Regions from separate parts of the Homo sapiens genome. Here region 2 is linked to region 1. Evidence: fine-mapped expression QTL. A gene starts in region 1. The other region holds a variant in brackets. All regions are shown on one strand. Distances are from middle to middle.

Region 1 (4,394 bases):
TCATATATGACACAAATAAATGGAGATTTATTTTATGCTCATGGATAAAAAAGATCAATATCATTAAAATGGCCATACTGCCAAAAGAAATTTACAGATCTAATGTAATTCCTATCAAACTACCAAAAACATTCTTAACAGAACTAAAAACAACTATTTTAAAATTCATATAGAACTAACAAAGAGCCCGAATACCCAAGGCAATGTATACACACACACACACACATATATACACATATACACACACACACACATATATATAAACGACTCATAGAACAAGAAACAGAATAGATAGCCAATAAATAATGCCACAATGCCACACACCTGCAACCATCTGATCTTCAACAAAGCTTACAAGAGCAATGCAGGAAGAATTCCCTATTTAATAAATGAGGTTGGAATAACTAGCTAGCACTATGCAGAAGATTGAAACTGGATGCCTTTCTTACATGATATATAAAAATCAATTCAAGATGAATTAAAGACTTAAATGTAGAACTTAAAATTATATATATATATATATATATATATATATATATATATATATATATATATATATATAAAACCTGAAAATAATCTAGAAAATAACCTAGAAAATTCTAAGACATAAAAACTGGCAAAGATTTTATGATGAAGATACCAAAAGCAATTGCAACAGAAGCAAAAATTGACAAATGGGACCTAATTAAACTAAAGAGCTATTTTGCAGCAATGGAAACAATCAACTGAATAAACAGACAACCTACAGACTAGAAGAAAATATTTGCAAACTATGCTTCTGACAAAGGTCTAAAATCTAGCATCCATAAGAAACTTAAACAAATTTATTTTAAAAAAAAAGAAGAAGAAGAATAAGCCAGGATCTGTGGCTCATGCTTGTAATCCCAGCACTTTGGGAAGCTGAGGCAGATGGATCATGAGGTCAAGAGATCCAGACCATCCTGGCCAACATGGTGAAACCCCATCTCTAATAAAAATACAAAAATTAGCTGGGTTTTGTGTCACGCACCTGTGATCCCAGCTACTCAGGAGACTGAAGCAGAAGAATCATCTGAACCTGGGAGGTGGAGGTTGCAGTGAGTCGAGATCATGCCACTGCACTCCATCCTGGTGACACAGCAAGACTCCATCTCAGAAAACAACAACAACAACAAAAAGAAAACCAAAAACCTAATTAAAAAGTAAGCAAAAACATGAACAGATACTTTTCAAAAGAAGACATACATGTGGCTGACAAGCATATGAAAACAAAATTCACGTTGTTAATTATTAGAAAAATGCAGAGAAAAACCACAGTGAGATACCATCTCATCCAGTCAGAATGCCTATTGTTAAAAAGTCAATGACAGATGCGGGCTAGGTTGCAGAGAAAAAGGAATGCTTATATGTTGTGGGAATCAGGAGGCCGGAGAGATCACTGGGTGCAACAGGAAGGTTTTATTTAGGTGGCCACTGGCCCAGCGGATTAACATCCAAAGGCTGAGCCCTGAACAAAGACAGGGCTTGACTTTTATACATGCATCAGGCAGGGGCAAGTCGGGTTTTTGGCGCAAAACCTGCGAGGTGAGAAAGCAGTCTTACAGAAGCAGAACAAAGGCAGTTAATCATACCGTGACAGGTTTTACAACAGGATTTGCAACATGAGCCTACCTTACTTAAACATGTCTTGTGACCTTGCCATGCTACAGAAAGAAAAACAAGAACTTACAAAATCTTTACAGACTTGCAGAAATAGTTACAAAAATAGTTGTGAGAGCAGAACAAAGAATAATGTTATGGGGAGAGAATTTCAAACAGGGAAACTGATAAGGAGAACTTGTTTTTCTCATCCCTGCTCCTGGAGCCCACTCCTTCGGAGCCCCTGCCTGGCCTTGCAGATAATTATCATAGCTCCAGCAGGACTTTGGAGTGAGTCAGACTGGTCAGGAAAGGACTTGTTTTCCCTTTACTTGTTTTTCCTTTTATATTTCCTGCTTCATTCCCCCCTTTGATGCTTTTTATAAGTAAAGTTTAAGAGAAAGCATCACTATCTTCATTTACTTCAAGAGGAAGTAGCTCTTTTCTTGGCAGGGGTTAATACTTAGTTAGGGCCATTAGTCGTGTGGTAGTCCGTCTGTCCACAAGAGCCTCTATGGCTGTTTGGATATTTTTGACAATGAGGGGTAAGAGACAAGGGAGTATAAGGCAAACTCCCAATATGGCTAGGACTATTTGTACTAAGGTTTTAAATCCTCCAAGGGATGAGAACCAACCTCTGAAAAGGGAATCTGGAGACTATCCTTTCCAAGTCTGAACTGGGATGTGAGCTAACTTTTGGATTTTAGCAGTTATTTCTTTGATGACCTTTCCTTCGTCATCAAGTTCCAGGCAGCAGTTAGTAAGGTTGAACTTTCCGCATACTCCCTCTTCCTGGGCTAGGAGGTAGTCTAAGGCCAGTCTATTTTGATAAATGACATTTCTCATTTTTGTGGCTTGCTGGGCAAGCAGATTCAAGGCCCCTGCAGTTTCATTGGTAATGATTTCTAGTACTGCCTGCAATCTTATAATGCGGTTAAGCATGTAAACTGGGGTGCGGTATCCCCACATTCCATCTTCTGCCCAGGTGGCTGGGCCATAATATTGAATTATTCTTTCAGGAGGCCATTCATTGTCCTTCCAATCTCCTATAGTTATGCCTCTTTTGCTTTTCCTTTTAGTTTCATCATAGATGGGGTATCCTAAGGCTTCTCCCTGTTTTAGGGGCATTAGGAAGAAGGACGGCCTAATTGTCCCCAGTACACAGGCCCCTGACCATTTAGCTGGCAGTTGTCGATATGCTTGTGGCCCACAGATCCAGTAGAGGCCAGAGGGTGCCTGCCAGGTATTTGGAGCTTCAAGTTGGTACCAAGAATGGTTTAAAGATGGGAAACGAGAGAATGGGCTTGGGTGTGGTGATTCAGAATTATTGCTTTTGCCCCTCCATAAAGTCTTTCCTAGTGTCTCGTTGTAATATTGTTGTCCTAGGCAAGTTAACTCTCCTACTGGGTCTGTAAAGGCCTTTCCCCAGCGAGCAATACAGAATTTTCCAATAATGGAGGTTTTTAAGAACCAGATGCTCTGACTTGATGGTGCAGGTTCGAGGGAAGAGGCGGTTAGTGTGAAATTATCTTGGGGCATTAGTTCCCTTGCTTCCCATGGCCATTGGTCTCCCATGTTCATTCCCCCACAGACATAACATGAAGCAACGTGCAGGCTGCTGGCTATGTTTTCAGCCAGTTGGGCGAATAAATTACTGGCCAAGGGAGGGGGCTCAGGCAATTTCTGGTTAACATGCTCATAGAATGACTCAAAAACTCGGAACTGTTGGGTTGAGCGGGTCCGAGTTTTCTTTATGATATATAGATAGACATAGGCTCCTGGGCCAATTTCTTCACCGCTGACTCGTGCCCCTAGCGGTGCTTTTAAACCTGTTGTCCATATGGGCTGATCTGGCTCTAAGATGGTAAGATTTACAGAATTGCAAGTGCTTGTTTTACAATCTGGTTCTAATGGTATTTTGGTAAGCATAATTGGCCCTAGTGATTGTTGGTTAGTGGACCACGTTGTGCAGTCCCAGCAAGTTGTTACTGGGGAATCGGTGGAACAAGCAGGGTGTGCATACCTATTTTTATGGCAGCTACTATAGTACTCCATGGAACTGAAGATTACGGGAAAGAGTGAGCCCATGGATACTATCTGGCAAACATCAAAGTATAAGGATACGACATCCTTGCCAGAGGGAAATACCTTGGTTTGGTTTAGAAGATCCCCTTCCTTTGACCCGACATGAATTTCAAACCAGGTCCCAGGTGAAGACTTAGGGTCATAACACACATAAGGCTGGCCCCTTCCTGGGTCACAGACTGAGTAGGTTGTCTGGTTGTGAGTACAAGTTCCTAGGCAGGTCCCAGCACACTCATAATAAGTGTGATACAACAGGGTTTTAGTCATGATGTTCCCCGACCACGTAGTGTGGGTGCAGTGGAGGCATCCCTCCCAGGGTTCTCCTTTTAACATGGATAAGGGGAGTAGCAAGAACAAAGTGATGAGTAGCATGTTCATACCCAGCATGGACAGAAAAGGCTTTTTCCTGGGGGGAGAAGGCTAAGCAAAGTGACAGCTTAATAGCAAAGTAATTAATATGACAAGGAAAATTACTGGACTTCAGATTTCTAACCACATTTACTTCCCTGATGATGACTCAAGCTTCGGCCGTGCATAGACTAGTCAGCTTCTGGGGTGACTAGAGCAGGGCTGTTGTCTCCTCAAGCTTCAGCCGTGTGTGGACTGGTCAGCTTCCGGAGTGACCAGAGCAGGGCTGTTGTCATCTCACTGGCACCTTGGTTCCATCGTAGGATCAGCTGGGTTGCATGGTC
Region 2 (4,394 bases), 24 kb before region 1:
TGTGACTCACAATCATAACCTATTAAAATATTAATACTATTATCTAGGTAAAACTTTTAGGTATCTGCATGTTCAGGTTGTTTAACTTATATAATTCAGAAACTATAAATTTTTATAATCTATAAAAACATTTAAAAAGATAAAGTATCAATTTCTTTTTGTCAGTTTTGAAATACTGACATTATTTCTAGTTGACATAACACTAGAATTCAGATGCTGTGGCTGTAGAAAATAGAAATGTCATGGTTTACTTGGTTTTACTTCCTACCTTCCTATTTCACACAAACAAAGCAGCACAAGGGAAGCCAGAAATGCTACACCTTGATTGCAAAAAAACCAGAACCCTTCTAGAGACAATATATGTGTCAGCATAATAACTTGAAATTCATGGCATCTTTTGTTGAAGTAGAGGCTCCAACAAGAGGCTGAATTAATCAACAAAAGGCTGAATTAATTTGCATTCTCACAAAGACTGTGTAAACATTCCCTATTCTCCACAACATGCTATTTTTTTTTTTACTTTTTAATAACAGCCATTTTAACTGGTGTGAGATGGTATCACATTGTCATTTTGATTTAATCTCTTTAATGGCTTGAGATGTTGGGCAACTTTTTGCATGTTTCTTGACAGCTTTTATATCTTCCTTTGAGAAGTATCTATTGATATATTCTGTGCTTTTTTCCTATTACATTTCTTATAGATTTTGTATATTAATTTTTTTGTTGTATGCAGTTTGCAAATATTTTTCTCCATGCTGTAGCTTGTCCATTTACTTTGTCAAATTTCTTTTGCTGTGCAGGAGATCTAGTTTAATTAGGTGTCAATTTATATTTTTGTTGCATTTACTTTTAAGGTGTTAGTCTCAAATTGTTTTCAGAGGCCAGTGTCCACAAGAGTACTTTCTAGGTGTTCATATAGGATTTTCATAGCTTGAAACTTCATGTTCAGTTTTTAATCTATCTTGAGTTACATTTTTTATATGCTGAGAGGTAAGAGTTGTTTTTTTCTTCTGCATGTGACTAACCATATAGTCCATTATTTATCAGTACCATTTATCAGATGGAAAGTTATTTCCCCTTTATTTCTGTTGACTTTGTCAAAAATAAGTTGGTTGTAGGAGTGTAGCTTTATTTCAAGTCTCTCTCTTCTGTTCCATTGGTCTACATGTTTATTTTTGTCCGAGAACCATGCTATATTGGTTACTGCCACTTGTAGTACAGTTTGAAGTCAGGTAAAGTGAGGCTTCCAGGTTTATTCATTTTGTTTAAAGATGCCTTGGCTATTTGGGCTCTTTTATTCAATATGAATTTAAAACCATTGTTTTTAATTCTACAAAAAATTGCATTGATAGTTTGATAGAAAGAGCATTTAATTTACAAGTTGCTTTAGGCATCATGGACATTTTAATTATATTGATTCTTCAAATCTATGAGCATGGAATGTTTTCCATTTGTATGTGTTGTCCCTGATATCTTTCAGCAGTGTTTTGTAGTTCTTTTTTTTTTTTTTTTTTTTTTATTGATCATTCTTGGGTGTTTCTCGCAGAGGGGGATTTGGCAGGGTCATAGGACAATAGTGGAGGGAAGGTCAGCAGATAAGTGAACAAAGGTCTCTGGTTTTCCTAGGCAGAGGACCCTGCGGCCTTCCGCAGTGTTTGTGTCCCTGGGTACTTGAGATTAGGGAGTGGTGATGACTCTTAACGAGCATGCTGCCTTCAAACATCTGTTTAACAAAGCACATCTTGCACCACCCTTAATCCATTCAACCCTGAGTGGACACAGCACATGTTTCAGAGAGCACAGGGTTGGGGGTAAGGTCACAGATCAACAGGATCCCAAGGCAGAAGAATTTTTCTTAGTACAGAACAAAATGAAAAGTCTCCCATGTCTACCTCTTTCTACACAGACACGGCAACCATCCGATTTCTCAATCTTTTCCCCACCTTTCCCCCCTTTCTATTCCACAAAACCACCATTGTCATCATGGCCCGTTCTCAATGAGCTGTTGAGTACACCTCCCAGACAGGGTGGTGGCCAGGCAGAGGGGCTCCTCACTTCCCAGTAGGGGCGGCCGGGCAGAGG[C/T]GCCCCTCACCTCCCGGACGGGACGGGGCGCCTGGCCGGGCGGGGGGCTGACCCCCCTGCCTCCCTCCCGGACGGGGCGGCTGACCGGGCTGGGGGCTGACCTCCCCGCCTCCCTCCTGGATGGGGCGGCTGGCCGGGTGGGGGCTGACCCCCCCCCCACCTCCTTCCCGGACGGGGCGGCTGGCCGGGCAGAGGGGCTCCTCTCTTCCCAGTAGGGGCGGCTGGGCAGAGGCGCCCCTCACCTCCCGGACGGGGCGTCTGGCTGGGCGGGGGGCTGACCCCCCCACCTCCCTCCCGGACAGGGCGGCTGGCCGGGCGGGGGGCTGACCCCCCCACCTCCTTCCCGGACGGGGCGGCTGGCTGGGCAGAGGGGCTCCTCTCTTCCCAGTAGGGGCGGCTGGGCAGAGGCGCCCCTCACCTCCCGGACGGGGCGTCTGGCTGGGCGGGGGGCTGACCCCCCCACCTCCCTCCCGGACGGGGCGGCTGGCCGGGCGGGGGGCTGACCTCCCCACCTCCCTCCCGGACGGGGTGGCTGGCCGGGCAGAGGGGCTCCTCACTTCCCAGTAGGGGCATCCGGGCAGAGGCGCCCCTCACCTCCCGGACGGGGCGGCTGGCCGGGCGGGGGCTGACCCCCCCACCTCACCTCCTGGACGGGGCGGCTGGCCAGGCGGGGGGCTGACCCCCCCACCTCCCTCCCGGACGGGCGGCTGGCCGGGCGGGGGGATGACCCCCCCCACCTCCCTCCCGGATGGGACGGCTGGCCGGGCGGGGGGCTGACCCCCACCTCCCTCCCAGACGGGGTGGCTGCCGGGCGGAGACGCTCCTCACTTCCCAGACGGAGTGGCTGCCGGGCGGAGGGGCTCCTCACTTCTCAGACGGGGCGGTTGCCAGGCAGAGGGTCTCCTCACTTCTCAGATGGGGCGGCCGGGCAGAGACGCTCCTCACATCCCACACGGGGCAGCAGGGCAGAGGCGCTCCCCACATCTCAGACGATGGGCGGCCTGGCAGAGACGCTCCTCACTTCCTAGATGGGATGGCGGCCGGGCAGAGACGCTCCTCACTTTCCAGACTGGGCAGCCAGGCAGAGAGGCTCCTCACATCCCAGACGATGGGCGGCCAGGCAGAGACGCTCCTCACTTCCCAGACGGGGTGGCGGCCGGGCAGAGGCTGCAATCTTGGCACTTTGGGGGGCCAAGGCAGGCAGCTGGGAGGTGGAGGTTGTAGCGAGCCGAGATCACGCCACTGCACTCCAGCCTGGTCACCATTGAGCACTGAGTGAACGCGACTCCGTCTGCCATCCTGGCACCTTGGGAGGCCGAGGCTGGCGGATCACTCGCGGTTTGGAGCTGGAGACCAGCCCGGCCAACACAGCGAAACCCTGTCTCCACCAAAAAAATACGAAAACCAGTCAGGTGTGGCAGTGCGCGCCTGCAATCGCAGGCACTCGGCAGGCTGAGGCAGGAGAGTCAGGCAGGGAGGTTGCAGTGAGCCGAGATGGCAGCAGTACAGTCCAGCTTTGGCTCGGCATCAGAGGGAGACCGTGGAAAGAGAGGGAGAGGGAGGCCGTGGGGAGAGGGAGACCGTGGGGAGAGGGAGAGGGAGAGAGAATTACAGTTTTTAAAAAGTAGACTGTAGTTCTCCTTCTAAAGATATTTTACCTCCTTGAGTCAATCCATTCCTAGGTATATTATTTTTTGTTTGTGGCTATTTTAAATAGAGCTCTGTTCTTGATTTTGTTCTCTGCTTAAATGTTATTCAAGTGTTGAATGTTATTCAAGGTGTATAGAAATGCCAGTCATTTGTGTACATTGATTTGGTATCCTGACACTTTGCTGAATCATTTTTTAGGCTTGGGAGTCTTTGGGAGAAATCTTTAACGTTTTTCAAGTAGAGAATTATATCATCAGTGAAGATAATTTGACTTCCTCTTTTCTTATTTGGATGCCTTTTTCTTTTTTCATCTTGTTGGATTGCTCTGGCTAGGACTTCCAGAACTATGTTGAATAGGAATATTTAGAGTGGACATTGATCTTATTTTTATTTGTAAGAATGCATCAAGCTTTTTCCTGTTCAGTATAATGTTGCCTGAGGATAATGTTGCCTGAGGATGGCTCTTATTATTGTGAGGTATTTTTTTCAATGCCTTGTATGTCGCATGTTGAGAATACTTTTATGAACATTAAATTTCCTTTAATGATTTTTCCACATCTAGTGTAATAATTATATGGTTTAATCATTTTAATTATCTTTATATGGTGAGTCACACTTATTGACTTGCATATGATAAAACATCCTTGCATTCATGAAATGAA

Evidence for each region. PIP is the estimated chance that this variant, and not a neighbour inherited with it, causes the effect.
Region 2: its variant is the best candidate, but not a certain one, in a credible set for the expression of ZNF117 in stomach (GTEx, PIP 0.51).

Annotation. Positions count from the first base shown.
Region 1 is chr7:64,988,938-64,993,331 of GRCh38, forward strand. It overlaps ZNF117 (zinc finger protein 117), which reads right to left and starts at 2,099. Exons shown (of 4, transcript NM_015852.5): 1 at 1,010-2,099. The region is part of intron 1 of ERV3-1-ZNF117 (ERV3-1-ZNF117 readthrough); the gene reads right to left. It overlaps ERV3-1 (endogenous retrovirus group 3 member 1, envelope), which reads right to left. Exons shown (of 2, transcript NM_001007253.4): 2 at 1,419-4,394. The coding sequence starts at 4,089. The coding sequence ends at 2,275.
Region 2 is chr7:64,965,435-64,969,828 of GRCh38, forward strand. No RefSeq gene overlaps it. Among named protein-coding and RNA genes, the nearest start is that of ZNF117, 23 kb to the right of the region's middle. RefSeq lists enhancers at 2,279-3,022, 3,023-3,766 and a silencer at 3,864-4,064. The variant C/T (reference allele first, on the strand shown) is at 2,083.